4 linked regions of the Homo sapiens genome follow. The protein of the gene in region 2 interacts with the protein of the main gene of each other region in a pairwise test. Each region holds a gene or a part of one and is shown on either strand. Other genes may lie near its edges.

Region 1 (8,671 bases), on a different chromosome or scaffold from region 2:
TTTTTTGAAACGGAGTCTCCCTCTGTCACCCGGGCTGGAGTGCAGTGGTGCGATCTCGACTCACTGCAACCTCCACCTCCCAGGTTCAAGCAATTCTCCTGCCTCAGCCTCCTGTGTAGCTGGGACTACAGGTGTCAGCCAAAATACACGGCTAATTTTTGTATTTTTAGTAGAGATGGGGTTTCACCATGTTGGTCAGGCTGGTCTCAAACTCCCGACCTTAGGTGATCTGCCCGCCTCAGCCTCCCAAAGTGCTGGGATTACAGGCGTGAGCTACCATGCCTGGCTTTTTCTTTTTTCTTTGAGATGGAGTCTTCCTCTGTCACCCAGGCTGGAGTGTAGTGGCGCAGTCTTGGCTTACTGCAACCTCCGCCTCCCAGGTTGAAGCAATTCCCCTGCCTCAGTCTCCCAAGTAGCTGGGACTACAGGCGCCCGCCACCACACCCGCACCTAATTTTTGTATTTTTAGTAGAGACAGTGTTTCAGTATGTTGGCCAGGCTGCTCTTGAACTCCTGACCTCATGATCCACCCACCTCAGCCTCCCAGCGTGCTGGGATTACAGGTGTGAGCCACCATGCCCGACCCTTTAGCCTCATATTACAGGTAAGATGACCGAGGCCAGAGGAGGGGAAGGCGCCTTGCTCCAGGGAGCATAGCGTAGGTGGAGCTGGGACTCCTGGCTTCCCCCTGAGAATCTCTTCTGATGATGGTGTCCCAGCTTCATTTCACTAGTCCAGGAAAAGGGAGTTGTGGCTTCATCCCGCTTACATAGACTCACCTGGGGAACCCCGTCCTCCCCACACCCCTGACCTGGACTTCATAGCTCTGCGGTGCAGGCAGGCATGTTATCTCACTTTTTAAAAAAAGCCTAAATTTTGGCTGGGTGCGGTGGCTCACAGCTGTAATCCTAGCAGTTTGGGAGGCCAAGGTGGGCAGATCCCTTGAGCTCAGGAGTTCAAGACCAACCTGGGCAACATGGCAAAACCCCATCTACTAAAAAACAAACAAACAAAACAACAACAACAACAAAAAAAAAAACAAACCACGGCTGAGTGCAGTGACTCATCCTGTAATCCCAGCACTTTGGGAGGCTGAGGCGGGTGGATCACGAGGTCAGGTGTTCAAGACCAGCCTGACCAACATAGTGAAACCCCATCTCTACTAAAAATACAAAAAATTAGCCAGACGTGGTGCACACCTGTAATCCCAGCTACTCAGGAGGCTGAGGCAGGAGAATCGCTTGAACCCAGAAGGCGGAGGTTACAGTGAGCCGAAATCACGCCACTGCACCCCAGCCTGGATGACAGAGCAAGACTCCCTGTCCAAAAAAAAAAAACAAAACCACACACACACACACACACACACACACACACACACACACACACACACACACACTAGCCAGGTGTGGTGGTGCGTGCCTGTAGTCCCAGCTACTTGCAGGGTCAAGGTGGGAGAATTGCTTGAGCGTAGGAGACAGAGGTTGCAGTGAGCCAAGATCGCACCACTACACTGCAGCCTGGGCGACAGAGCGGAAATCCGTCTCAAGAAAGAGAAGAAAGTTTGCCCTATTTAACACATTTTATCCCTTGACTAGATCTTTGTTCATGTCATGTCAGTTACATTTAGTCTTTTGTTTGTTTTGTTTTGTTTTCTTTTTTTTTTTTTTGAGATGGAGTCTCGCTCTGTCACCCAGGCTGGAGTGCAGTGGTGCAATACCAGGTCACTGCAACCTCCACCTCCTGGGTTCAAGCGATTCTCCTGCCTCAGCCTCCTGAGTAGCTGGGATAACTAAACATGGAGGCGTGCACCACCACGCCTGGCTAATTTTTGTATTTTTAGTAGAGACGGGGTTTTGCCATGTTGGCCAGGCTGGTCTCCACCTCCTGACCTCAGGTGATCCTCCTGCCTCGGCCTCCCAAAGTGCTGGGATTAGAGGTGTGACCCACCACATCTGGCCCATGTGAGTTACATTTAAATCTCTTTTTTTTTTTTTTTTGAGACAGAGTTTCGCTCCTGTTGCCCAGGCTGGAGTGCAGCGGCGCGATCTCGGCTCACTGCAACTTCCGCTTCCCGGGTTCAAGTAACTCTCCTGCCTCAGCCTCCTGAATAGCTGGGATTACAGGCATTCGCCACCATGCCTGGCTAATTTTATATTTTTAGTAGAGATGGGGTTTCTCCATGTTGGTCAGGCTGGTCTCGAACTCCTGACCTCAGGTGATCCACCCGCCTTGGCCTCCCAAAGTGCTGGGATTACAGGCGTGAGCCACCGCACCCGGCCTTTAAATCTCATTCTTTAGCCACTGCATTGGGATACACTTATTTTTGTTTTTGTGTTTTGAGACGGAGTCTCACTCTGTTGCCCAGGCTGGAGTGCAGTGGCGCGATCTCACCTCACTGCAACCTCCGCCTCCTGGGTTCAAGCGATTCTCCTGCCTCAGCCTCCTGAGTAGCTGGGATTACAGGCGCCCACCATCATGCCTGGCTAATGTTTGTATTTTTAGTAGAGACGGGGTTTCACTATGTTGGCCAGGCTGGACTCGAACTCCTGACCTCGTGTTCCACCCACCTCGGCCTCCCAAAGTGCTGGGATTACAGGCGTGAGCCACTGTGTCTGGCCACACTTGTTGTTTTCTTATTCCCCTTTTGCTGGGCATCCAGGTTGTTTCCAGTGTCATGTTGTGGCCAGTAAGTCCACACAGCTCTGCTCATGTGGAAACACAGGTGTGGGTTCTTCCCCGAAGTGAGGTTTCTGGGTCAAGGGGAAGATGGCTCTTGGAACTTGACAGCTATTGGCAAATTGTCCTCTACAGAGGTTTTAGGTCATACCTGGCTTGCTGGAGTACAGGTGAGCCCTGAAGGGACTGTTCCCAAGCCTTGCTTCCTGACGTGTGTCCCAGGGACCAGCTGCATCAACACTGCCTGGGAGCCTTTTAGAAATGCAGGGTCAGGGCCGGGCATGGTGGCTCACTCCTGTAATCCCAGAACTTTGGGAGTCCAAGGCAAGAGGATTGTTTGAGACCAGGAATTCGAGACCAGCCTGGGCAACATAGCAAGATACCATTGGCCAGGCACAATGGCTCACACCTATAATCCCAGCACTTTGGGAGGCCGAGGCGGGCGGATCACGAGGTCAGGAGATCAAGACCATCCTGGCCAACATGGTGAAAACCCGTTTCTACTAAAAAAATACAAAAAATTGGCCAGGTGTAGTGGCACACGCCTGTAGTCCCAGCTACTGGGAAGGCTGAGGCAGGGGAATTGCTTGAACGTGGGAGGTGGAGGTTACAGTGAGCCGAGATCGTGCCACTGCACTCCAGCCTGGCGACAGAGCAAGACTCTGTCTCAAAAAAAAAAAAAAAAGATAACATCTCTACCCAAAAAGAAAAAATTAAGTAGGCGTGGTGGTGTGTGCCTATAGTCCTAGTTACTTGGGAAGCTGAGGCAGGAGGATCCCTTAAGCCCAGGAGTTAGAGGCTGCAGTGAGCTGTGATTGTACCACTGTACTCCAGCCTGGGTGACAGAGCAAGACCCTGTCTTTAATGAGAAAAAAAAAAAAGAAAGGATCAGGTGTGGTGGCTCACACCTGTAATCCCAGCACTTTGGGAGGCCAAGGTGGGTGGAACACAAGGTCAGGAGTTCAAGACTAGCCAGGCCAATATGGTGAAACCCCGTCTCTACTAAAAATACAAAAATTAGCTGGGCGTGGTGGTGGGTGCCTGTAATCCAGCTACTCGGGAGGCTAAGGCAGGAGAATTGCTTGAAACCAGGAGGCGGAGGTTGCAGTGAGCCCAGGTTGCCCCACTGCACTCCATCCTGGGCGACAGAGTGAGACTGTCTCCAAAGAAAATAAAGAAAAAAAAAAAGAAATAGGGGGCCAGGTGAGCCCCATCCCGAAGCTTTAGAATCAGCACTTGCTATTGAACAAAGTCCAGAGGTCACTCTTGTGCCTGCTAAGGACTGAAAGACACAGCTGTAAGTCATGGGCAGGTGTGAACCCTGTCTTCCAGCTGCAGCGTGGGCCTGGACTTTCTCCTGGAAGGTGGGGCCAGGCAGGCTGTACCTGACTGTTCCTCTCTCCTCAGCGTCTGCTGCAGAGACCATGTCTGCCGACGGGGCAGAGGCTGATGGCAGCACCCAGGTGACAGTGGAAGAACCGGTACAGCAGGTGAGGAAGGGCCGGGACCAGGGACTGCCCCGACCCTGTGATTCCCGTGCAAGGAGGCTTCCCACCCCAGGGTGCCCTGGCAGGGAGCCAGGGATCTGCCGGCAGCTCACGGAGCCAGAGGGATTTATTCCTCAGTGGGGTATGGACCACTCACTGGTGTCCCCAGTTGGGAGGGGGGAATCTCAAAGGCCCTTGGAGGGCCTGAGGGAGCAGGGTTCTGTCTGAAACTACCTGCCCTCCCCAACCCCTGAGCCAAATCATCCTCACCTCTGAAGGCTCTCTCAGGGACGTCCTAGGAGGCCAGTTTCTATTCCAGATCTCTCATCCTCAGGTGATTTTATTTTATGTATATATTTTTGAGATGGAACCTTGCTGTGTCGCCCAGCCTGGAGTGCAGTGGTGACATCTTGGCTCACTGCAACCTCTGCCTCCTGGGTTCAAGCAATTCTCCTGCCTCAGCCTCCCAAGTAGCTGGGGTAACAGGCATGTGCCACCACGCCCGGCTAATTTTTGTATTTTTAGTAGAGACGGAGTTTCACCATGTTGGCCAGGCTAGTCTCAAACTCCTGACCCAAAGTGACCCACCCGCCTCGGTCTCCCAAAGTGCTCGGATTACAGGCGTGAGCCACTGCTCCTGGCCCCAAAAATAATTAAAATTTAAAAATCAAGTGGTGCGCTGGCTGTGACCCATGGGCTGTGGTCTACAGCCCCCGGTTTAGACCCTAACTGCCATGAGAATGGAACTGTTGTCCCTTATCACCACCTGGCACATCGCTGGGATAAAGTGCAGGCTCATGTAAATAGCCTGTGTTCAAGGAAGCACGTGGGCTGAGTGCGGTGGCTCACGCCTGTAATCCCAGCACTTTGGGAGGCTGAGGTGGGCGAATCACGAGGTCAGGAGTTCAAGACCAGCCTGGCCAACATGGTGAAACCCCATCTCTACTAAAAATACAAAAAAATTAGCTGGGCGTGGTGGCACCCGTAATCCCAGCTACTCAGGAGGATGAGGCAGGAGAATCGTTTGAACCTGGGAGGTGGAGGTTGCAGTGAGCTGAGATCGCATCAGTGCACTCCAGCCCGGGCAACAGTGCAAGACTCCGTTTCAAAAATAAAATAAAAATAAAGGAAGCACGTGGCGAAACCCCAAGGTTCCTGGCTTGTGCAACTGCCTGGATGCAAAGTGTGGGTAAACTGAGCCGTTTCACTGGCCAGGAGTAAGAGCAAAACTGCAGGGCACCCTGAGTTTCCGGCTGAGCTCCCCATCTTCCCCCACCCAGTTTGCCTGAGCCACTTCTCTCCTGTAGCCCAGTGTGGTGGACCGTGTGGCCAGCATGCCTCTGATCAGCTCCACCTGCGACATGGTGTCCGCAGCCTATGCCTCCACCAAGGAGAGCTACCCGCACATCAAGACTGTCTGCGACGCAGCAGAGAAGGGAGTGAGGACCCTCACGGCGGCTGCTGTCAGCGGGGCTCAGCCGATCCTCTCCAAGCTGGAGCCCCAGAGTGGGTGAAGTCCCAGGGGGCACTGAATTCCCCTCCTGGTCATTTCCCTGGGTGGGGAGTAGGGGGGTCTACCCAGCTCTTGGTCCTGTCCCCCTGAACCATTACTAGGTGACCTTCCAGCAGTCACATTTGCGTCTTAATTGTTGTTGGCAGTTGCATCAGCCAGCGAATACGCCCACAGGGGGCTGGACAAGTTGGAGGAGAACCTCCCCATCCTGCAGCAGCCCACGGAGAAGGTAACGATGTCCGTCCTCAGGGGCTCTGTCGAGACAGGGACCTACCTGGGTGTGGAGTGCGCTGGTCCCAGCTTAACTAGACAAGCTTGATGGCATCCTCCCTGCTGCCTCTCCTGTCGGTTCCCATCCCCACCCCGAATCCACTCCCCACAGGGTAGCTGGAGGAATAATTGCAAAGCCAGCCAGATTACAGGCGCCTGCAACCATGCCCATCTAGTTTTTGTATTTTTAGTAGAGATGGGGTTTCACCATGTTGGCCGGGCTGGTCTCGAACTCCTGACCTCAGGTGATCCAGCTGCCTCAGCCTCTCAAAGTGCTGGGATTATAGGAATGAGCCACGGTGCCCAGCCCACTTGTTTTTATAATAAAGTTTTATTGGCACACAGCCATGCCCATTTATTTACATATTGTCTATGACTGCTTTCACCCTACAATGGCAAGGTTGAGTAGTTGTGACAGAGACTGTGACCCACAGTACTGAAAATCTTAGTTACGTGGCCCTTTACACAGAATGTTGCCACCTCCATAACTTATTAGTCAGAAAAGGTTGGCGGCAGGAAAGTCAAAACATCAAAACACCATGTTCCTGGCCGGGCGCGGTGGCTCATGCCTGTAATCCCAGCACTTTGGGAGGCCAAGGCGGGAGGATCACCTGAGGTTGGGAGTTTGAGACCAGCCTGACCAACATGGAGAAACCCCGTCTCTACTAAAAATACAAAATTTATCTGGGTGTGGTAGCGGGTGCCTGTAATCCCAGCTACTCGGGAGGCTGAGGCAGGAGAATTTCTTGAACCCTGGAGGCGGAGGTTGCAGTGATCCGAGATCATGCCATTGCACTCTAGCCTGGGCAGCAAGAGTGAAACTCCATCTCAAAAAAAAAAAAAAAAACCAAAAAAACACCATATTCTGGCCAGGCGCGGTGGCTCATGCCTGTAATCCCAGTACTTTGGGAGGCTGAGGTGGGCGGATCACAAGGTCAGGAGATCGAGACCATCCTGGCAAACACAGTGAAACCCCATCTCTACTAAAACTACAAAAAAAAAAATTAGCTTGGCGTGGTGGCGTGTGCCTGTAGTCCTAGTTACTCGGGAGGCTGAGGCAAGAGAATCACTTGAACCCAGGAGACGGAGGTTGCAGTGAGCTGAGATCGCGCCACTACACTCCAGCCTGGGCGACAGAGCGAGACTCTGTCTCAAAAACAACAAAACAAAAAAAACACCATGTTCCAAACTGTGTCCTGCCCCTCAGCAGCTGGGTGGCCCTCACACAAGTTACTTTGCCTCTGTGGGCCTCACTTTTTTTTTTTTTTTTTTTTTTTTGAGACGGGGTCTTGCTCTGTTGCCAGGCTGGTGTGCAGTGGTGCAATCTCGGCTCACTGCAACCTCCACCTCCGGGTTCCAGCGATTCTCCTGCCTCAGGCTGCTGAGTAGCTGGGGTTGCAGACGTCTGCCACCACGCCTAGCTAATTTTTGTATTTTTAGTAGAGACGGGGTTTCACCAAGTTGGCCAGGATGGTCTCAATCTCTTGACCTCGTGATCCTCCCGCCTCGGCCTCCCAAAGTGCTGGGATTACAGGCATGAGCCACTGTGCCCGGCCCCCTCTTTTTTTTTTTAAGATGGAGTTTCGCTCTTGTTGCCCAGGCTGGAGTGCACTGGTGCAGTTTCAGCTCACTGCAACCTCCACCTCCCAGGTTCAAGCGATTCTCCCGCCTCAGCCTCCCGAGTGGCTGGGATTACAGACATGTGCCACCACACCTGGCCAATTTTTGTATTTTTAGTAGAGATGGGGTTTTACCATGTTGGTCAGGCTGGTCTCGAGCTCCCGACCTCAGGTGATCCACCTGCCTTGGCCTCCCAAAGTGTTGGGATTACAGACATGAGCCACCAGGCCCAGCCTGGGTCCCACTTTCTTTTCTACAGAATGGCAATGCTGACCTGGGGTTAACACCTGAAGGCCCAGAACAGCACATGGCTTGTAGCAAATGTTGGCTCTTAACATTAAAAAAAAAAATTTTTTTTTTGAGACAGGTTCTCACTCTGTCACCCAGGGTGGGGTGCAGTAGTGTGATCATGGCTCAACTGCAGCCTTGAACTCCTGGGCTCAAGTGATCCTCCCATCTCAGCTTCCCAAGTAGCTGGGACCACAGGCATGCACCACCATGCCTGGCTATTTTTAATTTTTTGTAGAGACGAGTTTTCACCATGTTGCCCAGGCTGTTCTCAGACTCCTGGGCTCAACAGATCCTCCTGCCTCAGCCTCCTGAGTAGCTGGGACTAGGTGCATCCACCACGCCTGGCTAATTTTTGTACTTTTTGTCAAGACGGAGTCTCGCCATATTGCCCAGGCCGGTCTCCAACTCTTGGGCTCAAGCAATCCTCCTGCCTCAGCCCCACAAAGTGCTAGAATTATAGGAGTGTGCCACTGTGCCCTACCTCAGTTTCCCTTAATCACCGCTTTTTAAAGACCCTGTCTCTAAATACAGCCACATTCTTACCCCTGGGGATCAGGACTTCAACATAAGAATTTGGGGTTGAGGGGGCCATAATTCAACCTATAACAGCCTGGGATGAAAAAATGAGGCACAGACCAGGCGTGGTGGCTCACGCCTTACTCCCAGCACTTTGGGAGGCCGAAGCGTGCAGATCACTTGAGATCAGGAGTACGAGACCAGCCTGGCCAACATGGTGAAACCCTGTGTCTACTAAAAATTCAAAAATCAGCCAGGCGTGATGGTGAGTTCCTATAATCTCAGCTACTCGGGAGGC
Region 2 (8,671 bases):
AGGAAGGAAAAAAATGAATGTGAATGTTAAATTCCCTTCCTTAGCACTGTTATAACCACCACTTATTTGGAGAGGAGGTAGTGGGAGAAGTTCTACCTTGGAATACTTTGGGGCCACTGGAGGGTGGCAAGGTAGATTTAGGCCTTTTTTTTTTGAGACAAGAGTCTCACTCTATTGTGCAGGCTGGAGTTAAGTGGTGCGATCTCAGCTCACTGCAACCTTAAGTGGTGCGATCTCAGCTCACTGCAACCTCCGCCTCCCAGGTTGAAGCTATTCTGCCTCAGCCTCCCAAGTAGCTGGGATTACAGGTGCCCACCACCATGCCTGGCTAATTTTTGTATTTTTAGTAGAGATGGGGTTTCACCGTGTTGGCCAGGCTAGTCTCGAACTCCTGACCTCAGGTGATCCGCCACCTTGGCCTCCTAAAGTGCTGGAATTACAGGCATGAGTCACTGCGCCTGGCCTAGGCCTTTTTTTTTTTTTTTTTTCTTTTTTGAGACAGAGTCTCACTTTGTCATCCAGGCTGGAGTGCAGTGGTGCCATCTCAGCTCACTGCAGTCTCAACCTCCTGGATTCAAGCAATCCTCCTACCTCAGCCTCCTAAGTAGCTGGGACTACAGGTACCCACCACCATGCCTGACTAATTTTTGTATTTTTAGTAGAGATAGGGTTTCCATGTTGCCTGGGCTGGGACTTCAGGCTTTTACACAAACCTCCTGCTAACATACCAGTAGATGTGTGTTTATCAGTTTATCAGAGAGTTCTCTCTGACCTATCATATTTTCATATTTTCTCTACTCTTTTTTTTTCTTTTTCTTTTTCTTTTTTGAGATGGAGTCTCATGATGTTACCCAGGCTGGTCTCAAACTCCTGGTCTTAGGTGATTCTCCTGCCTAAACCTCCCAAGTAGCTGGGATTACAGGCATGCACCACTATACCCAGCTACTATACTGTTTTTGTCTCTGTTCACCCAGTATTTATCCCACATATGTGAGACGTACTATTGCGTATTAGGAAAAAGACCAAATGCTGTAGTAAGTGCTCAGTAACTGTCTGCTATATGAGTACATGCAGAAACTTTAGCTGTGAGTACATTTGTTTAGAATGAAGAGGTTTCCTTTCCTTTCTGCTGAGAATCAATGGTGTAAGTTAGAAGCAATGCAAGAGATGATATTGCTGCCTGGGGGTATATCAGGTCTTTGGGGAAGCCAGGTTACTGCTGTGGAGAGGAACGATGGAAGGCTTACCTTGCTCTGTGTGTCTTCAGCTTTGAGGAAGGCGGCAGGAGAAAGTGTGGCCAGTACTGGCCTTTAGAAAAAGACTCTCGGATCCGATTTGGCTTCCTCACAGTGACCAATCTAGGCGTGGAGAACATGAATCATTATAAGAAAACAACGCTAGAAATTCACAACACAGAGGTAAATCCAGGTTTCTTTTTTCTCACCTTGTTGAAACAGGGGGAGAATAATTACTGTAATGAAAATCTCCAGAGGGAATAGGTAGGATACCAGGGAAGTTATGAGTTGCTTCTGTTTTTCTAGGGACAGGATGAGGATATTTAACTCACAGCCAATATAGCCATATTACTGCAGCACGATAGGAACATTAAATAGGAGTAAAGCTTATAATTTTAGAAATCTGGGGCTGGGTGCAATGGCTTAGGCCTATAATCCCAGCACTCTGGGAGGCAGAGGTGGAAGGATCACTTGAGCCCAGGAGTTCAAGATAATCTAGGCAACACAGTGAGATCCTGTCTCTACAAAACATAGAACAAATTAGCTGGGCATGGTGGCACAAGCCTGTGAGGTCAAGGCAGCAGTAAGTTTGATCGTGCCACTGCACTCCAACCTGGGCAACAGAGTGAGATCCTGTCTCAAAAAAAATTCTGGATCTTACAGTATAGGAATTCTGCCTTTTCCAATTAACCAACCCTTCCTTTGGGTTTGTAGTAAAGAAGCAATTATGGGAAAAGTTGACAGTGGTGGATAGGAGCCTTGGTGGTAGGGATAACCAGGGTGTTGAGAATCTGGAAAAGCCAGAGGTAGCTAGGGGCAGGCAGAAATAACCTTGTTAACGTTTACTTCTTTTCTTATCTAAGGAACGGCAGAAACGCCAGGTGACCCACTTCCAGTTCTTGAGCTGGCCAGACTATGGTGTCCCTTCCTCAGCAGCTTCCCTCATTGACTTCTTGAGAGTGGTCAGAAACCAGCAGAGTCTGGCTGTGAGCAACATGGGAGCACGCTCCAAAGGGCAGTGCCCTGAGCCACCCATTGTGGTCCATTGCAGTGCAGGCATTGGCAGGACAGGTAACGCACCTAATGCAGCTCTTGGTGTCTGCAGGGGCAGTAGGGGTGGACGAGGAAAAACAAAGCTCTTAGCCCACATCTGTGATTGGAGAAGGAACTCACTTGCTCCCTTGGTGGTGAATTGCTGTGAAAAATCCCTCATCTAATGTCCTTTTGGTGGACCAAGTGATGGCCAGAATATATATTTCACAAGCCAAGTCCTCTAGGGGTTGATGTTTTATACACCCCATCATAACGCTGACTCTGTCACCTGTTAGAACTGTCACTGCAGGTATCCCAGAGAGCTCAGCTGGGCTGCTGCTTCCTTCCCATCCAGCCCTCCCTGGAGGGACTCCCCACCCTGTGCTGTGTTCTCCATTCTGGAGCCAGTTAGCAGCTTTTGCCTTAAGGGCATGTACATGGTAGGAAATGTTGGCCTTTCTATTTCAAAGGTCCCTTTGGGAGAAAGTTGAGAATAGGTTTTTGTTAGGCCTCTGAAAAACTTGTGGACTCTGGAAATTAGGTGTGGGAGTGCTGTCAGTCTGTCTGTCTGGGATTGAAGCAGGAAGTTCCCCTGTGTCACCTTCCCATTTCCACTTCCTGTTACCCCAAGTGTATGTCCTGAGAAATAAGAGGCCTTCTCATTTCTCTGGCCTCCAACACTCCCTGTGACCTCCTTCTTGAGTCCTTTCAGGCCTAAGGCCACCTGGCCTTCTGCCATGAGGCACTTTGCCTGTGAAGTCATTCATTCAGTTCTGCCTGGGTTATTTGGTAGAGGGAGGAAGAGAAGAGAGGTAAACCAGATGTGATCACTTCCTTCCTTCTTCAGGTACCTTCTGCTCACTGGACATCTGCCTGGCACAGCTGGAGGAGCTTGGCACCCTTAATGTGTTCCAGACGGTGTCACGCATGAGGACCCAGAGGGCCTTCAGCATCCAGACCCCTGAGCAGTACTATTTTTGCTACAAGGCCATCCTGGAGTTCGCAGAGAAGGAGGGCATGGTATCCTCTGGCCAAAACCTGCTGGCCGTGGAGAGTCAGTAACTCTCCTACGAACCTCCTACCTGTTGGCCAGCCTTCCTTAAACTACCCTGGACACCGCTGAGCCTATAGGTTGCCATCAGTTACGCTGAAGCCATGGATCAACTTCTTTCTTGTGTCTCCCAGCACACGTGTGCACGCAAGGCAGCCTTTCCCTTTGGCTAGATAAATGTGGTGAAATTGCCACTAGAAAGGGCCAGTAGCAATGTGTTCTTAATTCCTAGCATCTGCTATCAAACTGTGCCTTATTAAAACCAAATTGTGGCTATTGATTTTTGCTAGGGTCCCCGAGGTAAGTGGGGAAGGAACCTCCCTCCTCCTTTCTCCCGCCATTCTTTTTCTGAGGTCTCCTGTCTCCCACTCCTTCCCTTTCCTAGGATTTTATGGGGAGGTTTGATGAGCATTTGCCTTTCTCCCCAGAGAGCTTGACCAAGTTACATATTCTAGAGATCGTCCTGAGTGCCAAGCACGTTTATAAGTAGGGCGTGTATTCCAGTCCTTTCTGTCATTCTGTGTGTGTGTGTGTGTGCACTTATGTGTATGGGTCCATATGTACGTGTGTATATAATATATATTGTATGTGATAATATGATCGTATTCTATAAATACATATACACACGATACTCCTTTCCAGAAGTTCCTGGGGCTCCGTGTTGCAGTTCAGGACTCCTTGCTTCTTGGACCCTACTATTTATCCTGGACTAGCTTGGGTTGGTGATCATGTCTCCTCTTGTCAGGCTACAGAGTGGTGGAAGAGGACACACACACATCTCCTCCATGTTCCTGCCACAGGGCCCCTTCCTTAAGTAATGACTTATCTCCTTCCAGTTGCCACCTGTTGGAGCCAAGAATGTATTAGTTTGTGGTGACACTGGGTTAGCTCAGCATGGATTTCCCTTATCCGATGATTTTTCTACATTTACTTGGCCAATTTGGGGAACAGACCTCCACTGTGATTCCATACTCTCTCTTTGCTTTCACTATCCCAGGGATGGGAGGCGGAGGGTAGAGATGAACTCACTGAGCAGCCAGAGCCAAATGCAATCGGTACGAATCTTAGAAGGAAGGAGGGGGAGCCCAGGTATGAGAAAGAAAAAACCACTAAGAAAATACCTCCCTGGGAGGATGAGCTGGGGCCCTTTTTCTTTTGCTGGATGGTTCCTTTATGCAGCTTGGCCCTGTCTACCGAGATGCCCATCTCTTCCTGCCTGCTAGCCTGCTAGACCCTCAAACTGGGTGGGTTCTGTGTCAATAAAAAGCTTCACCCCCTGGCTGAGTGAGGTGGTCCCCTGCAATCACTGTTTGTCCCCTACCCACCCAACCTGTCCCTGCCTGCTCCCAGCCCACTCATCCTTATGTGCTAGGGATAAATCAAGAGTCCTCAGCACTCCACATTCCCAAAAAATCCCAGGAACTCCTAAACCTTCCCCTGTGACAGAAGATGAGGTTGGCAGCTGATCAGACCTCAATAATTTTATACTGTAATAAGCTCTTTGAATGTGTATATTATTATTTTTTACAATCATTTCATTTTGTATTTAATATCAATGGACTGAGTCTGATTCAGAAAATAATTGTAATGTTCATATTCAATATCTTACAGTGATACAGTTTTGTATTTACATATAAATATACCGACATGATCAAAACCCTTTTAGCTTCATCAATTTAGCAGCCTGGGACATGAGGGAGGGGGTCCAGGAGCTGGTCTGGGAGGGATGAGGGAGGCAGGGAGGGACCCAAGCCTTCAGTATCTGAGACTTTGAGTTCTGACACTATGAGTTCACCTTGTCTGTAGGCCATGGCCCTATCTCTGGACAGAGGGACCAGCACCAGTTCAGTGCTTGAGATGTGCTAAGCACTATGCTAGGTGCTTTTCCCCCACCCTGCCTCATTCAAACCTCACAACAATTCAGTGAGATATTATCTTCTCTCCCTTCTCCTGTGCACCCCTTTCTCATTTCTATATAGATGAGGAAGGTGAGGTCCAGAGGGTTACAGTGATTTGCTCTAAAACGAGCTCAAGTTGGTCTGCTTACAAAGCCTGTGGTCTCTTCACTGCATGGAAGATGGAGATCTTGTGTTTGGAGAACAGAGGTTTGTTTAGCTCTCCTTTCAGAGTAAAAAAAGTTCTTAAATTCCAGGTTGTTGTTCTTGTGCCCATGCTTCATGTAGTAGACGCGAAGGGTGACAGGGTTGGTGACTGACTGTCCTAGCTAGGACCTCCTGATGTAGGGTCCTCATGTCTGCAGCGTACCAAAGGGGTTATCATTCTCCCCAGGAGACTCCATATCTATGGGTACATGGTCTTTGTGAGAAGATCTTGAGTCATTTGCATTTATCTCTTAGAAAGAAAGGAACCAGAAGCTTTGTACATGGAAGACCACTCCCCATATCATACCTGTTGGCTGTTGATGGCCTGCCCAGTTGGGGCAGTTGTGGCTGGGAAATATTGGGGTGTTCTTAATAATAGTCATAGCAGCCAATTTACTGGATGCTCACTCTATTCCAGGCACTGTTCAGAGTAATTTCTAGGTATCATCTCATTCACCCTCAACAACCTTTTGAGGTAGGTATTGACAGAAGAAAAAAATTGAGAGACAGGAATGTTAATTTGCTACAGCCAGGATCCCAGACCATCTGACTCCAAAGTATCTTCTTTCACCTCTTACACTAGACTTCCTCTAAGGATCCATCTTCTGATCTGCCAATAAATTTTTATCGAGTTTCTTACCATAATCAGGAGCTCAAGTGTAGAGCAGAAGATTAATCTAGTTCCTTCTCCAGATGAGCCTCCATTCTCTTGGGAGTGCACAAACATAAGAAGTGAACAGAGATTCTTGGAAATCTGAGAAACCAGAGAGGTCAGGGGTTTGGTGGAACATGTAAGAAATGGGATTAATGATAAACGGCCTGGAGGAGGTAACTTTAAATTGTCATTTATTTGAAGAGGCTGTAACCCGACTGCCCTGTGAATTTAAGGTTATGCATGAGTTCCTCATTGCATATCTGAAGACTGGTGAGGTTATCTATCACTTCAGCTCCATAAAATGCTGATTTCTGGGCCCATCCAGTAGGTTGTTAGTGAGTGACAGGATTATCCAGGTTTGGGAACCATAGATTTAGTTCATGTTTCTGACCCTATAGAGAGTTAACAAATTGATGTCTCCTAAATTTTCAGTAAAACTCAGAGGAACTCCTCCCACTGCCATTGTTTGTAGCTTTTACCAGCGTGAACCTACCTGTGTTAGGTGTTAAAGGAGGAGGTAAAGGAAAGGGAAGGCAGAGACGCAACCCAGAATCTGTTTGGCAAGTCAGGGTTCTCATACAGGAGACTTAGTGAACAAAGCAAGAGAAAATGCTCAGGGTCCAAGTGCAGTGGCTTTATGCCTGTAATCCCAGTACTTTGGAAGGCCGAGGTGGGCAGATCACCTGAGGTCAGGAGTTTGAGACCAGCCTGACCAATATGATGAAACCCCATCTCTACTAAAAATATAAAAATTACCCGGGTGTGGTGGTATGTGCTTGTAATCCCAGCTACTCGGGAGGCTGAAATGGGAGAATCACTTGAATCTGGGAGGCAGAGGTTGCAATGAGCCGAGATCGCGCCATTGCACTCTAGCCTGGGCAACAAGAGTAAAACTCCATCTCAAAAAAAATAAATAAATAAAAAAGAAAGACAGTGTTCAGGAAAGAAGAAAACACTGAGCTAAAGCAGGCTTCTGCTTCTGATTTGATGGCTGTTTGTTTCACCTTTCTCTAACATTCCCATGCTATATAATTTTTCAAACATGAGATAATCCCTGTGTCCTTTTTCCCATTGCTCCCTTCATCTTGCCCATCCTCATTGGCTAGGATGGGACTCCTGAGACGAAGGGTGCCCCAGCATCCTCAGCCTCGGAGGCCCACCCTTATCAGTCTTCATGTGACAGTATGCAGGTAAATGACAGAGTAGGACTTGTTCTTGGGAGAATGGACTATTTAGCATCATAGCCCTAGGGAAATTTGGTTCCTTCCCTGAAAGGAATGCTTCCTGTCTCTTGGGACAGACAGACACACATACAAAAACTTTTATAAATCAGAGACCTAGAGGGAATTGGGCCAAGAGGCATTGGCCAAGTAGAAAAGCTTCTCTAGAGTGACCCAGCTCTTTTGTGGTTTTGAGGTCTTACCACTGAACCAAACCCAAGTCCTAGGTTCCCTCTGTAAAAGAAGGGGCTACACTAGATGATCCTACCATGGGTCCTCTGACTGTCAGGGTCCAGTTCTTTGTTAGACAGTGCAAACACCCATAGAGGAGCTATTAGGCCTTTACTTGGGTTGAGTTGGCTCCCACTAGCACTCCCCACTTTTCATTTTTTTTACTTTCAGAGACAGAGTCTCACTCTGTTGCCTAGGTTAGAGGGGAGTGGCATGATCATGGCTCACTGCAGTCTCAACAACTGGGCTCAAGCAGGAACCCAGCTTTTTTTTTTTTTCTCTCTCTCTCTCTAGAGACAGGATCTCACTATGTTGCCCAGGCTGGTCTCGAACTCCAGCCTCAAGCAATCCTCCTGCCTCGGCCTCCCAAAGTGAGAGGATTACAGGCATGGGCCACCACACCCAGCCTCTCCAGTTTTAGTGTGTTTTCAGAGTCTCTTCTTTCAAGCTGCTGCTACTTCCCTAGCTTCCCTCAGTTCTCTTCCCCCTTGGCCTTCCAATTGGAGGAAAAGCAGGTCAGGTCTCTGTCATCTCCAAGACCAGCCTATAGGCCTTTAAAGTTTCCCTGTTTCTTAATGTGGGGTCTACAGGGTTTCTCAGAGGCAAAGCATGAACAGACCAAGGGTCCTATAGCTCCCAACCTAGTCCTTAGATTTCTCTCTGGCCTTGGTTACTCCCACAAACCACTGTGAGCCTACCAAGGGCAGGAATGGAAATGCCCATCAGCCTGGGAACCATCTTTTTCTCTTAGGAGGTATCCGCCCTATAGTTACCTTTACACAACACTTGTGAATATCAAGTGTTCTAGACTGCACTGTTCATAATTGACTACAGAGAAGACTAGGATCTTCTCCACAAATAGAAATATATCACTTTTACTTGGAGATGTTTTCTTGGGGGAAAAAAAATCTAGCACCTTGAAACCTGTTACAATGTTTAAATCTCCCTTCTTTACCTTGGCTGTCATAAAATCCTCCTGTTTGAGCTAAATGTGGCCTGCTGAAGTCTTAAATGCCCATATTTTTCAGGCTAAGGCCATGGTGGACATAGCTAACTCCACTAGAATCCTAGCTGGGGGTGTTGGAAAAAACGGTACAGTGCCCCTCTCAGACTCCAGGCTCACGTCCGTCTCCCCTCCCCGCACA
Region 3 (8,928 bases), on a different chromosome or scaffold from region 2:
GACCAAGATGGGCAGATCACTTGAGGTCAGGAGTTCAAGACCAGCCTGGCCAACATGGGGAAACCCCATCTCTACTAAAAAATAGAAAACTTAGCCGGGCGTGCTAGTGGGCGCCTGTAATCCCAGCTACCTGGGAGGCTGAGGCAGGAGAATCACTTGAACCTGGGAGGTGGAGGCTGCAGTGAGCCAAGATCTTGCCACTGCACTGCAGCCTGGGTGACAGAGCAAGACTCCATCTCAAAAAAAAAAAAAAATCTAAAAAAACTAAATTTATGGCCAGTCGCAGTAGCTCACGCCTATAATCCCAGCACTTTGGGAGACTGAGGCGGGTGGATCACCTAACGTCAGAAGTTTGAGACCAGCCTAGCCAACATGACGAAACCCCGTCTCCACTAAAAATACAAAAATTAGCCAGGCATGGTGGCAGGCGCCAGTAATCCCAGCTACTCGGGAGGCTGAGGCTGGAGAATTGCTTGAACCCAGGAGGCGGAGATTGCAGTTAGCTGAGATGGTGCCATTGCACTCCATCCTGGGCATCAAGAACAAAAGTCTAACACAAAGAAAAAAAAAACATACACACCACTAAATTTATTTTTAGACATGGGATCTTGCTACGTTGCCCAAGCTGGAGCACAGTGGCTACTCCGAGGCACCATAATAGCTCCCTGTGACCTTGAACTCCTAGGCTCAAGCAGTCCCCCCACCTCAGCTTCCTGATTTTTAAAAGTCAAATTTTTCTCCAAACCGCAGAGTTAGAACTTACTCATATTTCTTGATGGATTCTGAGTTTTGTAACATCTCAGAAGTATCTTCATAATGACTTCTTATTTTCTTTTCAGTTTAAATTTAGAGTCCAATTTCTTGGAGTTTTGTGGGATTTTCATCAAGGCTGGGAAGCCAACTACACCAAAACCATTTGAAGTTGCCATACCCTTCAAGCAGGTCCCTTTCCTTTACTCACCCACATATAACCTCTCAGAGTTTAAGTTCTAGAGATTAACAAACAACAGAGTTAGGCGAGATTCTGGGGGCTAGGCCCAAAAGTTCTTCCGGATGAAAAGTACAAATCTAGGCCAGGCGTGGTGGCTCACGTCTGTAATCCAGGCACATTGGGAGGCCGAGGCGGGCAGATGACCTGAGCTCAGGAGTTCGAGACCAGCCTGGGCAACATAGTGAAACCCCGTCTCTACCAAAAATACAAAAAATTAGCTGGGCATGGTGGTGTGCGTCTGTGGTCCCAGCTACTTGGGAGGCTGAGGTGGGTGGGTCTCTTGAGCCCAGGTGGCGGAGGTTGCAGTGAGCCAAGATTGTGCCACTGCACTCCAGCCTGGGTAACAGAGTTAGACCCAGTGTTTAAAAAAGAAAGAAAAAGAAAGAGTGAGAAGAAAGAGAGAGGGAGAGAGCGCGAGGGAGAGAAAGAGAAAAGAGAAAAGAAAAGAAAAAAAGAAAAGAACAACGCTACAACAAAACAGTACCTTACCAAAAAGTAATGATAAATGCCACAGGCTTCCATCCCTGGACTTAGGTGATAAACTCCTAGCAATGCAGTAATAACTAACAGTCTACAAACTAGATTTCAATTCTTTTACTAGATCCTTTTAGGGACAAGTTCTATTTACTTTCAAACTCCCACAGTGCAAACAAAGCAAGGTATTTGACCAAGCCCTGCTCTTTTCTTATTCATTTCTAATTATCTGTACGGGCTGCTGGCACCCCATACTCAAACATTGGCTAGCTGCCTCTTTTAAAAGGCAATTGCAGGCAGGGTGTGGTGGCTCACGCTTGTAATCCCAGCACTTTGGGAGGCCGAGGTGGGCGGATCATAAGGTAAGGAGTTCGAGACCAGCCTGGCCAGGCCAACACAGCAAAACCCCGTCTCTACTAAAATTACAAAAATTAGCTGGGCGTGGTGGTGGGCGCCTGTAATCCCAGCTACTCGGGAGGCTGAGGCAGGAGAATCGCTTGAACCCGGGAGGCAGAGGTGGCAGTGAGCCAAGATTGTGTCACTGCACTCCAGCCTGGGCGACAGAGCTAGACTCCATCTCAAAAAAAAAAAAAAAAAAAAAAGGCAATTGCACACCTCCCTTCACCTCCTACATTCTCTTTGCTAACAGCAACGCCAAACTAAAAACCAATGCATCTTTGAAAACATTCCAGTTTACCAGATAAGGTAAATTTAAAATTCTGAAGACAGATTATCTGATCCATTTTTCTTTCCATAAAGCCCTTCAAAAATACCCTCTGGCAGTCAGCAGAACAAGCCTTTCACCCAAGAGAGACATAAAATAGCCTATGATTCTGTCATTTACAAACGCCAGGACATTTATTTAAAGGGTATCCACACATTATATTATTCCCAAGGAATGCTTATGCACTCAAGTAGGAAAAGGAGGACCAGGCCTGGCACGGTGGCTCATGCCTGTAATCCCAGCACTTTGGGAAACCAAGGAGGGGTGATCGCTTGAGCCCAGTAGTTGGAGACCAGTCTGGGCAACATGGTGAAACCCCATCTCTACTAAAAATACAAAAATTAACCCGGCATGGTGGAACGTGCTTGTAGTCCCAGCTACTCGGGAAGCTGAGGTGAGAAGATCGCTTGAGCCTGGGAGGTCGAACCTGCAGTGAGCCACGATCGCACCAGTGCACTCCACCCTGGGCGACAGAGACCCGGTCTCAAAAAAGAGAGAGAGAGAGAACAAGAACAAGTGGCTTCTCTGGCTATGAGAAGTCTATAAAGTTTTGAGGCCGGTGGCCTCAGAAGGCCTACCTGTGACAGAGAATGTTGGGGGGACACACGGGTTTTTCTGAATTAGAGCATGCCCACAACAGAGCTAAGCAATTGCCCGCAGAGGCATGTTACAAAACCACAAAGCAGGAACAGAGCTGAGAGGCCCCTGCCCAGAACACCCTGGAAGCTAAAACACAGGACCCTGAGAAATGAGCTCTACTACAGACAAGTCCAACAGAAAGTTCTCTGTTTCTGCTACCTCCAAAACTGGCTGCCCTCCCAGATTTAACTCTGGGTACCAATTGGGCAGTGCCAGCCACCGTGCTGGGCGGTGGATTCCGGGATGCCAAGTCTGTCTTCTTGGTTAGAAGGACACAAACCTCTGCAGTGTAGAGAATTGTGGGCATATCTGGGCTCCTCCACTGCATCAGGGCTACCTGCCTCCATCCAGCAAATACTTACTAAGCGCCTACCATATACGCCTGGCACCCAGCTAGACATCAAGTGGGAACCAAACCACAGTCCCTCGTCTCCGCAGGCAGAAACAGGCACCGTCCGGAGGTTGCGCGGGCCGGGAAAACCTGCCACAGGTTGCTAAGACCAGCTGTACCCAGGAGACAGCAGGATTCCCAGCAGCACCCAGCCCAGTAACGCCACAGACTCCCGGGAGCGAGGGCGGAGCGGACAGGTAGGCCCGAAGGCAGGTGCTCAGGTAGGAGGCGCACACCTGAGGCTGCCGGCCTGGGAAGGGCAGGCTCTGGCCGAAGGCGGGGTCCCCAGAGAAGGCTGCAGAGTGGTCCCGGGACCCCACGAGGGAGAGGGGGCGCGAGGAGCGGGCTCCGGCCTGGGCAAGCGGGTACGCGGCGGAGGCCCCGCAGCGGGGCGGGGAGGGAGGCGTGCGGCTAGGCCGCCCTCGGGCACCTGGGGCCCCGCCCGGCACCTACCACTTGGGCGACCTTGAGGCGGCCGAGCGCGCCGCGCAGGTAGTCGGGGTCGCAGCGCAGGCCGGCCAGCCCGCGGCGCTGGCTCACCGGCTCGGTGGTGGGCTGGTACGGGCTGCTGGCGCCCGAGATCATGGAGGTGCTCGAGGCCTCGCCCTCGAAGCCGTCCAGCTCCTCGCCGCTCCGCATGCTGCCGCCCGGCCCGGGCCGCCTCGCGCGGCTGGCTCCCGGCGCCAGGAGCGGGCGGACTCAGCGGGGCCGCCGCATCGCCGCCGCCGCCGCCGCCGCCGCCGCCCGACTGACTGCCCGCGGCCCGCCCGCCGCCGCCGCCTCTCGCCCGCCGCCCGGCTGCGGCTGCGGCTCGGTCCGCTCGGGCTCGGCTCCCGCCGCCTCGGCAGCGGAAAGGGAGGGAGGTGGGAGCCAGGAGAGGGAAGGAGGCGGGAGCGGGCGCGCCGGGCCGGGAGAGGCGGAGCCAGGCCGCAGCCGGCCGCTCGGAGGCGCTCCGCGGCTCGAGCGAGGTGGAGGCGGCGGCGCCGCGGGCCTCGGGGAGGGGCGGGGCGAGGCGGGGCGCCGGCTCCTCAGGCCCCGCCCTGGCCCCGCCCCCACCTGCGCCTAGAGCCGGGGCGGGAGCCGCTGGTGGGCGCTGGCGATCCCGGCACGCGGGGCGATGGGGTTCAGGCAGCGGGGTCTTGGGGCTGAGGAAAGGGTCGAGGTGGACCTGGAGGCCATGGAGTTGCTTTCCCAGACGCTGCCTCAGGTTCTCCTTTGAAGAAAGTGGGGTCCTCGACGCATAGGGTGGGGAGCTTCTCGGTAAAGACAGAGACGGGCTGCGCCACCCGGGTGCCGGGAACGGTGCGTGGCCAGGGTGGGCTTGACTCAGACTATTGGGCCGACGAGAGGTGGGTAAGTGCCTGTGTTCTCACGCTGGGCGCCTGGAACAAACCGGTTCCGAGGCCAGGGGCGGGCGGGGCAGGGTGAGGAGCCGCCCCACTGCAGGTTGTCCCCGCCGGCCTGACCCAGGCGACTGACATGTTCCTCTCCTCTCAGCTGAAAAGCTTTGCTAGCTCTGTCTACGCATAAAGTAAGGTTAAACACAGATTTTGCCCCGAAGGGCATTAATTAGGGACCAATTTACAATTCAAGTGTGAAGGCTAATTTTAAGCTAAGTAAAACACTGACTAAGAAGTGTCGCTTTGATATTGAACCCTTCCACAACCACAAATACCGAGAGCTTGCCATGTTCTAGGCACTGAGCAAGGCGCTTGAAGAACGTATCGTTGTTATTTCTATTTTACAGAAGAAGAGACTAAGGCTGCAGACTGGAAGTAGCTTGTCCAAGGTCACACAGTTCATTGGTGGGCAGAGCCCAGGTTCCTACTTTTTCTTTTTTTAAAAAAAAGTTATTTATTATTTTCATCATCATTATTTTTGTAGAGATAGGGCCTCACTGTGTTGCCCAGGCTGATCTCGAACTCCCGGGCTCAGGGGATCCTCCTGCCTCAGCCTCCCAAATTGCTGGGATTACAGGTGTGACTGACCATGCCCAGCCCTCAACTTTTTCAAAGATAGGAAGGACAGTGACTCTAATACTGTTGTCCTTCTGTATGGGGGCAAGAGAGGGAGCTTGTTTTCAGGACCCCCTCAAATACCAAAATCTGAAGATGCTCTCAAATCCTTTATATAAAATGGTGTAGTATTTACATATAACCTACACACATCTTCTCGTATACTTTAAATAATTGTTCTACTGTATTACTTTTTATCTATATTTTTGTGTGTGCGTGTGTGTGTTGTTTGGGGGTTTTTTGTGTGTGTGTTTTCTGAGACAGAGTCTTGCTCATCACCCAGGCTGGAGCGCTGTGGTGAGATCTCTGCTTACAGCAACCTCCACCTCAAGCGATTCTCCCACCTCAGCCTCCCGAGCAGCTGGGACCACCACGCCCAGCTAATTTTGGCATTTTTAGTAGAGACAGGGTTTCACCATGTTGGCCAGGCAGATCTCAAACTACTGGCCTCAAGTGATCTACCCACCTCAGCCTCCCAAAGGGCTGGGATTACAGATGTGAGCCACCGTGCCCCACCTGTTTTTCTGTTTTGTTTTGTTTTGTTTGTTTTTAAAATAGACTTTTCACTCTGTCATCCAGGCTGGAGTACAGTGGTACAATCATAGCTCACTGTAACCTCGACCCCCTAGACTTAAGCAATCCTCCTGTCTCAGCCTTCTAAGTAACTGGGACTACAGGCATGCCACCACCATGCCTGGCTAAATTGTTTTTTCTTTCTTTTTTTTTGGAGATGGGGTCTCATTATGTTGCCCAGGCTGGTCTCAAACTTCTGGTCTCAGCAGTCCTCCCACTTCAGCCTCCCAAAGTGCTGGGATTACAGGCATGAGCCACCACATCCAGCTTATTTTTTATTGTTTTTTCCAAATAATTTTTTTTTTTGAGACGGAGTCTCATTCTGTCACCCAGTGGCATGATTGCTGCGCACTACAACCTCCACCTCCCAGGTTCAAGCAATTATTCATGCTTCAGCCTCCTGTGTAGCTGGGATTACAGGTACCGACTAACACGCCTGGCTAATTTTTGTGATTTTAGTAGAGACGGGGTTTTGCCATGTTGGCCAGGCTGGTCTTGAATTCCTGACCTCGAGTGATCTGCCCACCTTGGCCTCCCAAAGTGCTGTGATTACAGGCATAAGCCACTGTGCCCAGCCTATTTTATTCCAAATTTTTTTTTATCAGCAGTTGGTTGAATCCATAGCTGCAGAAACCACAGATATAGAGGACTGACCCTAAATCAACAAATATTTATTGGGCACTTACTATGGATTAAGCAATATACTAAGAACTTGAGATAGACAATGGTGCTAGACGGTGGTGACATTGAGTGGTTGGATGTAGACTCTTGCCTCTGCTTTCTCCCAAAATCCCAGTGAAATGACAGTTACAGGGATTTTTTTGAGGGGGTGGGGTTGGGCATTAAACTGTTGGGATAAAGAATGGCAAAGGAGGCAGGGCACCATGGTGCATGCCTGTAATCCTAGCACTTTGGGAGGCTGAGGTGGCAGTTCACTTGAGGTCAAGAGTTCAAAACCAGCCTGGCCAACATGTTGAAACCTTGTCTCTACTAAAAATAAAAAAAAAAAAAAAAAAAAAAAAATTAGCCATACATGGTGGCGAGCGCCTGTAATCCCAGCTACTCGGGAGGCTGAGGCAGGAGAATCACTTGAACCTGGGAGGTGGAGGTTGCAGTGAGCTGAGATCACCCCACTGTACTCCAGCCTGGGCTACCAAAAAAAAAAAAAATGGAATGGGAAAGGAGACAATGGCAACAAAATGTTGGAAGCTGGGAAGCAAATGGGCAACTGTAACTTAGCAGATCCAAGAAAGCCAAACCCTAAACTGGCAGGGGAAAGGCTGAAATATTATGCAGCACAGGTTATATCACAGAACAAAAGGCTCAGGAATGGGCAGCACCAAGTAAGTGTAGAGTTAGGGGGTGAAGGCAGGAGTAATAAACAAGAAGAGCAAGTGAAAGTCTTTTAAAGAAGCAAGTGGATCCCTAGATCCCTTTTCACACCCATCCCCCAAGACTGGAGCTTTGTTCTCTGGAGAGGGTGAAACAGAAGGCCTCTTAGTTAGAGATCACTAGGCACAGTTCAGGGAAGGAATACTGTACTAAAAACAGGTGGAGTAAGTGAAAGTTTGCTTAATGAATGAGACCCCCAGACATCCTTCCCGAGATCATGGTAGCCAAGACCTCACATTCTCTCTGGAAAACATGATTAGCACAAGAAGAAAGACCCAAAGATCCTGACAATGGAAGTACCCCAAAGTGGAGCCCAGCCAGATCACCCAACACAGAATCCCACAGTTGAGACTTCTCACCTACAGGCACAGAGCTTCCAATGAGCTTTTGAGGACTCTACTTTGAAATATAAATGACAACTAAGAGTCACCAAACATTTGAGGAAAGCCTATAACATAACAGAGGTCAAAACGAAGAAAAAGATATGTCATTAAATGTTTACAATGGTATATATATGTGTGTTCATATATATACCATTTTATACACATGTATATATCAGTATTCTCAGGTAAACTGAGAAGATACTGTAACCATAAAAAGTTTAGAATAAGGCTGGGCATGGTGGCACATGCCTGTAATCCCAGCACTTTGGGAAGCCGAGGTGGGTGGATCATTTACAGTCAGGAGTTCGAGACCAGCCTGGCCAACATGGTGAAACTCCATCTGTACTAAAAAAACAAAAATTAGCCCAGAGTGGTGGTGCATGTCTGTAGTCCCAGCTACTCAGGAGGCTGAGGCAGGAGAATCGCTTAAGCCCGGGAGGCAGAGGTGGCAGTGAGCCAAGATTGTGCCACTGCACTCCAGCCTGAGTGACAGAGCAAGACTCTGTCTCAAAAAAAAAAAAAAAAAAGTTTAGAATAAGGCTGAGTGAGGTGGCTCACGCCTGTAATCCCAGCGTTTTGGGAGGCTGAGGTGGGCAGATGGCTTGAGCCCAGGAGTTCGAGACCAGCCTGAGCAACATAGCAAGACCCCATCTCTATTAAAAAAAAAAAAAAAAAAAAAGTTTAGAATAAGATGTTACCAAAAAGGAATATTCAGAGAAAAAAAAAAACCTCTTAGACAAGCACATGAAAATATGCTCAATGTTATTAGTTGAAGGAAATTAGGGAAATGCAAATCAAAACCACTTCATAACTGCCAGGATAGCTATAATAAGAACAACAGGAAATTACAAGTGTTGGTGAGGATGTGGAGAAACTGGAACCCTCATACATTGATGGTAAGAATGTAAATGGTGTAACTGCTGGGTTGAAAGTTTGGCAGTTCTTCAAACAGTTACATAGAATTACTATATGACCCAGTAATTCCACTCCTGCGTATATACCCAAAAGAACTGATAATGGGTGGCCAGGCACAGTGGCTCATGCCTGTTATCCCAGCACTTTGGGCGGCCAAGGCAGGTAGATTGCTTAAGTCCAGGAATTCAAGACCAGCCTGGGCAATATGGCAAGACCCCATCTCTACAAAAAATACAAAAAACTAGCTGGGTGTGGTGACACATGCCTGTAGTTCCAGCTGCTTGGGAGGCTCAGGTGGGAGGATTGCTTGAACCTGGGAGAGGAAGGTTGCAGTGAGCTGAGATTGTACCACCGCACTCCAACCTGGGTGACAGAGTGATACCCTTTCTCAAAAACAGAAAAAAGAAAAAAAGAAAATAAAAGAAAGAAAA
Region 4 (4,437 bases), on a different chromosome or scaffold from region 2:
AAAAGGAAGCCCTGGCCGTTTCCAGGCTGAGGTAGGAGCAAGGACGACGGGAGCTGAGCGGCTCTGTGTTTTGTCCCTTCATCCAACAGGAACCTAAGGAGATGCTGACTCTAAGGTGAAAGAGGGCACCTAGGGTGGGAAATTGGGGGGCTCAAAGTTGCTTCTTTGAGAACCTTGAAGGCGTGGGGGCCTTTGGGAGGTGTCCAGGGGGACAGGGAGCCAACCCCACGGCGCCCACCTCCCACCTCCAGTGAGTACCACGAGCGCGTGCGCTCCCAGGGGCAGCAGCTGCAGCAGCTCCAGGCCGAGCTGGATAAACTCCACAAGGAGGTGTCCACTGTTCGGGCAGCCAACAGCGAGGTGAGCCCCGGCCCACCTTGGAAACCCCTGATGGATCCCTGCTCCCAGGGTCCTGAGACTTAAGCTCCGCCCAGAGCCCTGCGGGATTTCTCCCGGTGCCCACGAAGTCCATCCCAAAGCAACCAGCTCCCAGAGGTCCCGTCCACCTGTAAAAGCAGCCCGCAAGCCTCGCCCCTCCAGGCCTCGCCCTCCCTCCTTGCAGAGAGTGGCCAAGCTCGTGTTCCAGAGGCTGAATGAGGATTTTGTGCGGAAGCCCGACTATGCTTTGAGCTCTGTGGGTAAGACCCGGAGACACTGGAAGACAGAGACGCAGACAGGAAAGAGGCCAAGACACTGACACAGACAGACCCATGCACCTGACCGGCCGAAGACAGAGCCTCGGACAGCCCCCACCCGCCCCCAGCCCCCGCGCCCCCGCGCCCCGACTCCCGGCAAGGCCTGGGAGCCTCTGAGGGTTACTTCTCACTGTTCCAGGAGCCTCCATCGACCTGCAGAAGACATCCCACGATTACGCAGACAGGAACACTGCCTACTTCTGGAATCGCTTCAGCTTCTGGAACTACGCACGGCCGCCCACGGTTATCCTGGAGGTGAGTCTGGAAACATCCCGGGATGGGACCCCGGGCGGGACGCTGGGAAAAGCACCAAAACCCCGCCCTACAGGCGGAGCTTGGCTGAGCCGAGGGCGTGGAGGATGGCGTTTAACTCAAGGAGAGACCTGGCATTGCTGGGGACTGGGGCGGGCTGGAGGTGGAGCTCTGGGCGGGTCGATGGATGGGGTCGAGCTGAGGCCCGGGCTGGGGAGCGGCAGCAGTCGCTCTGTCCGACGGTTCCGATGGTCCCTCCGCCCGCCTGCAGCCCCACGTGTTCCCTGGGAATTGCTGGGCTTTTGAAGGCGACCAAGGCCAGGTGGTGATCCAACTGCCGGGCCGAGTGCAGCTGAGCGACATCACTCTGCAGCATCCACCGCCCAGCGTGGAGCACACCGGAGGAGCCAACAGCGCCCCCCGCGATTTCGCGGTCTTTGTGAGTGCGGACGAGGTCAGGAGGTGGGGGATTTTGCCTAGAGAGCCCAAGCAGTCTTGAGAACTGGTGCCGTTATCTGAGTCTTCGCTTGCTCATCTATAAAATGAAGATACTACTATTTGCCTCTCAGAGCTGCTGTAGGTTATAGTCATAACCATATCCAGATATTAGTTATTGCTTGCAAAGCACTTACTCCGTGCCAAGCAGTTTACAGGCATTCTTATTTTGCTGTTGTTTTTGAGACAGTCTCGCTCTTGTCACCCAGGCTGCTGGAGTGCAGTGGTGCCATCTCAGCTCACCTGCAACCTCAGCCTCTAGGATTCAAGCGATTCTTGTGCCTCATCCTCCCGAGTAGCTGGAATTACAGGCGTGCGCCACCATGCTCGGCTAATTTTTGTATTTTTAGTAGAGATGGGGTTTCACCATGTTGGCCAGGATGGTCTCAAACTCCTGACCTCAAGTGATCCGCCTTCCTCGGCCTTCTGAAATGCTAGGATTACAGGCATGAGCCACCGTGCCTGCTTTGCACCCACATAACAACCTATGATGTACTGTTATCTCCCCCTTTAAAGATGAAGAAAGTAATGCTCAGAGAGGGGAAGTTATTTTTCCAAGGTAATACAACTAACAGTTGGCAGGATTAAATTTAAAACCTGGTTTCTTCCCGGGAGGTGGAGCTTGCAGTGAGCCAAGATCTCACCACTGCACTCCAGCCTGGGTGACAGAGCAACACTCCGTCTCAAAATAAATAAATAAATAAAACCTGGTTTCTTAGAGCCCACATTCTGAATTACAGTGTACGACCATCAAAAAATACATGAGAACATGCATATAGCTATTGAATACACAGAAGATCCTCAGCAAAGTTTTCTTCTCCCCGCCCCCCCCGCCCCACCTGTCCCCCTCATAGTTCCTCCTTTCATTCTTCACCCACCAGGGCCTCCAGGTTTATGATGAAACTGAAGTTTCCTTGGGGAAATTCACCTTCGATGTTGAGAAATCGGAGATTCAGACTTTCCACCTGCAGGTGTGTTTGTCTCTAGGGTGAAGGTGCCAAGGGAGTGGGGCAGTGAGGGATGAATGATCCAGGAGGAGGGCAGCCCTTGGCATGATCCATTTGTCTCCCCAGAATGACCCCCCAGCTGCCTTTCCCAAGGTGAAGATCCAGATTCTAAGCAACTGGGGCCACCCCCGTTTCACGTGCTTGTATCGAGTCCGTGCCCACGGTGTGCGAACCTCAGAGGGGGCAGAGGGCAGTGCACAGGGGCCCCATTAAACATGCTGATTTTTGGAGTAGAATTGAGTTCTGCTGAAGGATACTGGATCAGTGCTTTCGGGGGCTCTGTTGGGAGAGCTCTGGCTGCCGTTGCATCTAAGTATGGAGGGGCTGACTTCCCAATGCACCCTCTTTTCTTGGAGAAGTCTTGATCAAGATCGTAATAGCAGCTCCTGTTTATGGAGTGCCTACCACGTACAAGAAACAGTGCTGTGGACATTACACACATTACCTAACTTCATTCTCACAACCAGAAAGGGAAGCTGCTCAGGTCAGGAAACTTGTTCAATGTCACACAGCTAGTGAAAGGCAGTGACAGAGCAGTACCCAGGCCCACCTTCCTCCAGAGCCAGTCCTCTAACTGCAGAGCTGCAGGCAGCCTGAACCCACCTTTGTGCTCAATTCCCAGCCCCAGTGGGAAAGTCCCCAACTCCTGCTAGGTACCGGTGGAGGGGTAGCTACCCACCTTCTGCAGGCACACACTCAAAAGCTAAGGAGACTTGATAACCTCTAGGAAGCTTCTGAGTCACAGAGCTGATGCAGGCCTGGTAGCCCCTACATAGGTTGTCTTACTGAGACCTGAGTTCCCAACTCTGTGTGAGGCACAGCATAGATGATTTAGTGTTCACCAGTCCCTGCCCTCAAGGAGCCTGACAGGGGAAAGAAGAGACTCCAGGAAACAGGACAATGCATTTACAGATCCAAGAATTCTTCACTCTAAGGGTCGAAAGTGGAATTGCAGGGAAAAAAGATGGAGGAGAAGGCAACAAAGGATTAATGAGTTCTACCTAGGGGTAGGAAAGGAGGACCAGCATGAGCAAAGCAACACGCACAACATGCACCATCTTGGAGGGCAATGTGCAGTATCTGGTAAAATTTTAAATATACCCTTTGATCTAGCACTTCCACTTTTAGGAACAAATTCTTCAGAAACATTCCTGTTAAGTGCACAAAGATACATGTACAAAGATGTTCATTATAGCATTGTTTGAAAAAAACTGGGATTCAAATCTCCATGAATAAGAGACGGGTACGCTCCTACAAAAAAATAAGATGTAGGCATTAACACCTTCCCAATGTGCTCATGCTTTAGAAGAATATACAGACTATTAATAGTGTTTATACTTTTAAGAAGTGAAATTCGGCCTGGTATGGTGTCTCATGCCTGTAGTCCCAGCACTTTGGGAGGCTGAGGAGGGTGGATCATGAGGTCAGGAGATCAAGACCATCCTGGCCAACATGGATACAAAAATTAGCTGGGCGTTGTGGCATGTGCCTGTAGTCCCAGTTACTTGGGAGACTGAGGCAGGAAATCACTTGAATCGGGAGGCAGAGGTTGCAGTGGGCCAAGATCGTGCCACTGCACTCCAGTCTGGCGACAGAGTGAGACTCCATCTCAAATAAAATAAATAAATAAATAAATAATCTGGGGGATTTTTTTATAATTTGAAGATGAAAAAGACCCCACTGAGTGCTCTCAAGGCCTATTTTTATTTATCAAAGCCTAAGTTTAGAATTATGAACTAATGCAGCTTTTCTGGAGGGCAGTTTCACAACAGGAACCAAAAGCCTTACAACTTTTTGTACTCTTTACTCACAGCAATTCCATTTCTAAGAATGTATCCATAGAATACATAGATGTATTCAAAGGTAATATTTATAAGGAAATTTAACAGTGTTGTTTATAAATTGGAAACTTAGTAACCAAGTAGATAAACTGTTATAAAAAATAAGCAGCCAATAGAAATGGTAATATAAGAGAATGTCTGAAGCCA

What was found.
Region 1: the proteins of PTPN9 (region 2) and PLIN3 interact in binary tests that used the Homo sapiens proteins (3 or more experiments, as listed by UniProt).
Region 3: the proteins of PTPN9 (region 2) and CMTM4 interact in binary tests that used the Homo sapiens proteins (3 or more experiments, as listed by UniProt).
Region 4: the proteins of PTPN9 (region 2) and SPAG4 interact in binary tests that used the Homo sapiens proteins (3 or more experiments, as listed by UniProt).

What each region holds. Positions count from the first base shown.
Region 1 is NC_000019.10:4,856,824-4,865,494, reverse strand, and holds part of PLIN3 (perilipin-3), read left to right. Parts: intron 1-4,083; 5' UTR 4,084-4,100; coding exon 4,101-4,166; intron 4,167-5,470; coding exon 5,471-5,669; intron 5,670-5,822; coding exon 5,823-5,905; intron 5,906-8,671. UniProt on the Homo sapiens protein: Structural component of lipid droplets, which is required for the formation and maintenance of lipid storage droplets. Required for the transport of mannose 6-phosphate receptors (MPR) from endosomes to the trans-Golgi network.
Region 2 is NC_000015.10:75,463,427-75,472,097, reverse strand, and holds part of PTPN9 (tyrosine-protein phosphatase non-receptor type 9), read left to right. Parts: intron 1-1,247; exon of another isoform or gene 1,248-1,267; coding exon 1,268-1,418; intron 1,419-2,098; coding exon 2,099-2,306; intron 2,307-3,114; coding exon 3,115-3,329; 3' UTR 3,330-8,671. UniProt on the Homo sapiens protein: Protein-tyrosine phosphatase that could participate in the transfer of hydrophobic ligands or in functions of the Golgi apparatus.
Region 3 is NC_000016.10:66,692,668-66,701,595, forward strand, and holds the start of CMTM4 (CKLF-like MARVEL transmembrane domain-containing protein 4), read right to left. Parts: upstream 4,077-8,928; 5' UTR 3,859-4,076; coding exon 3,673-3,858; intron 1-3,672. UniProt on the Homo sapiens protein: Acts as a backup for CMTM6 to regulate plasma membrane expression of PD-L1/CD274, an immune inhibitory ligand critical for immune tolerance to self and antitumor immunity. May protect PD-L1/CD274 from being polyubiquitinated and targeted for degradation.
Region 4 is NC_000020.11:35,618,361-35,622,797, forward strand, and holds the end of SPAG4 (sperm-associated antigen 4 protein), read left to right. Parts: intron 1-89; coding exon 90-115; intron 116-251; coding exon 252-360; intron 361-562; coding exon 563-638; intron 639-834; coding exon 835-950; intron 951-1,218; coding exon 1,219-1,386; intron 1,387-2,323; coding exon 2,324-2,413; intron 2,414-2,515; coding exon 2,516-2,662; 3' UTR 2,663-2,734; downstream 2,735-4,437. UniProt on the Homo sapiens protein: Involved in spermatogenesis. Required for sperm head formation but not required to establish and maintain general polarity of the sperm head. Required for anchoring and organization of the manchette.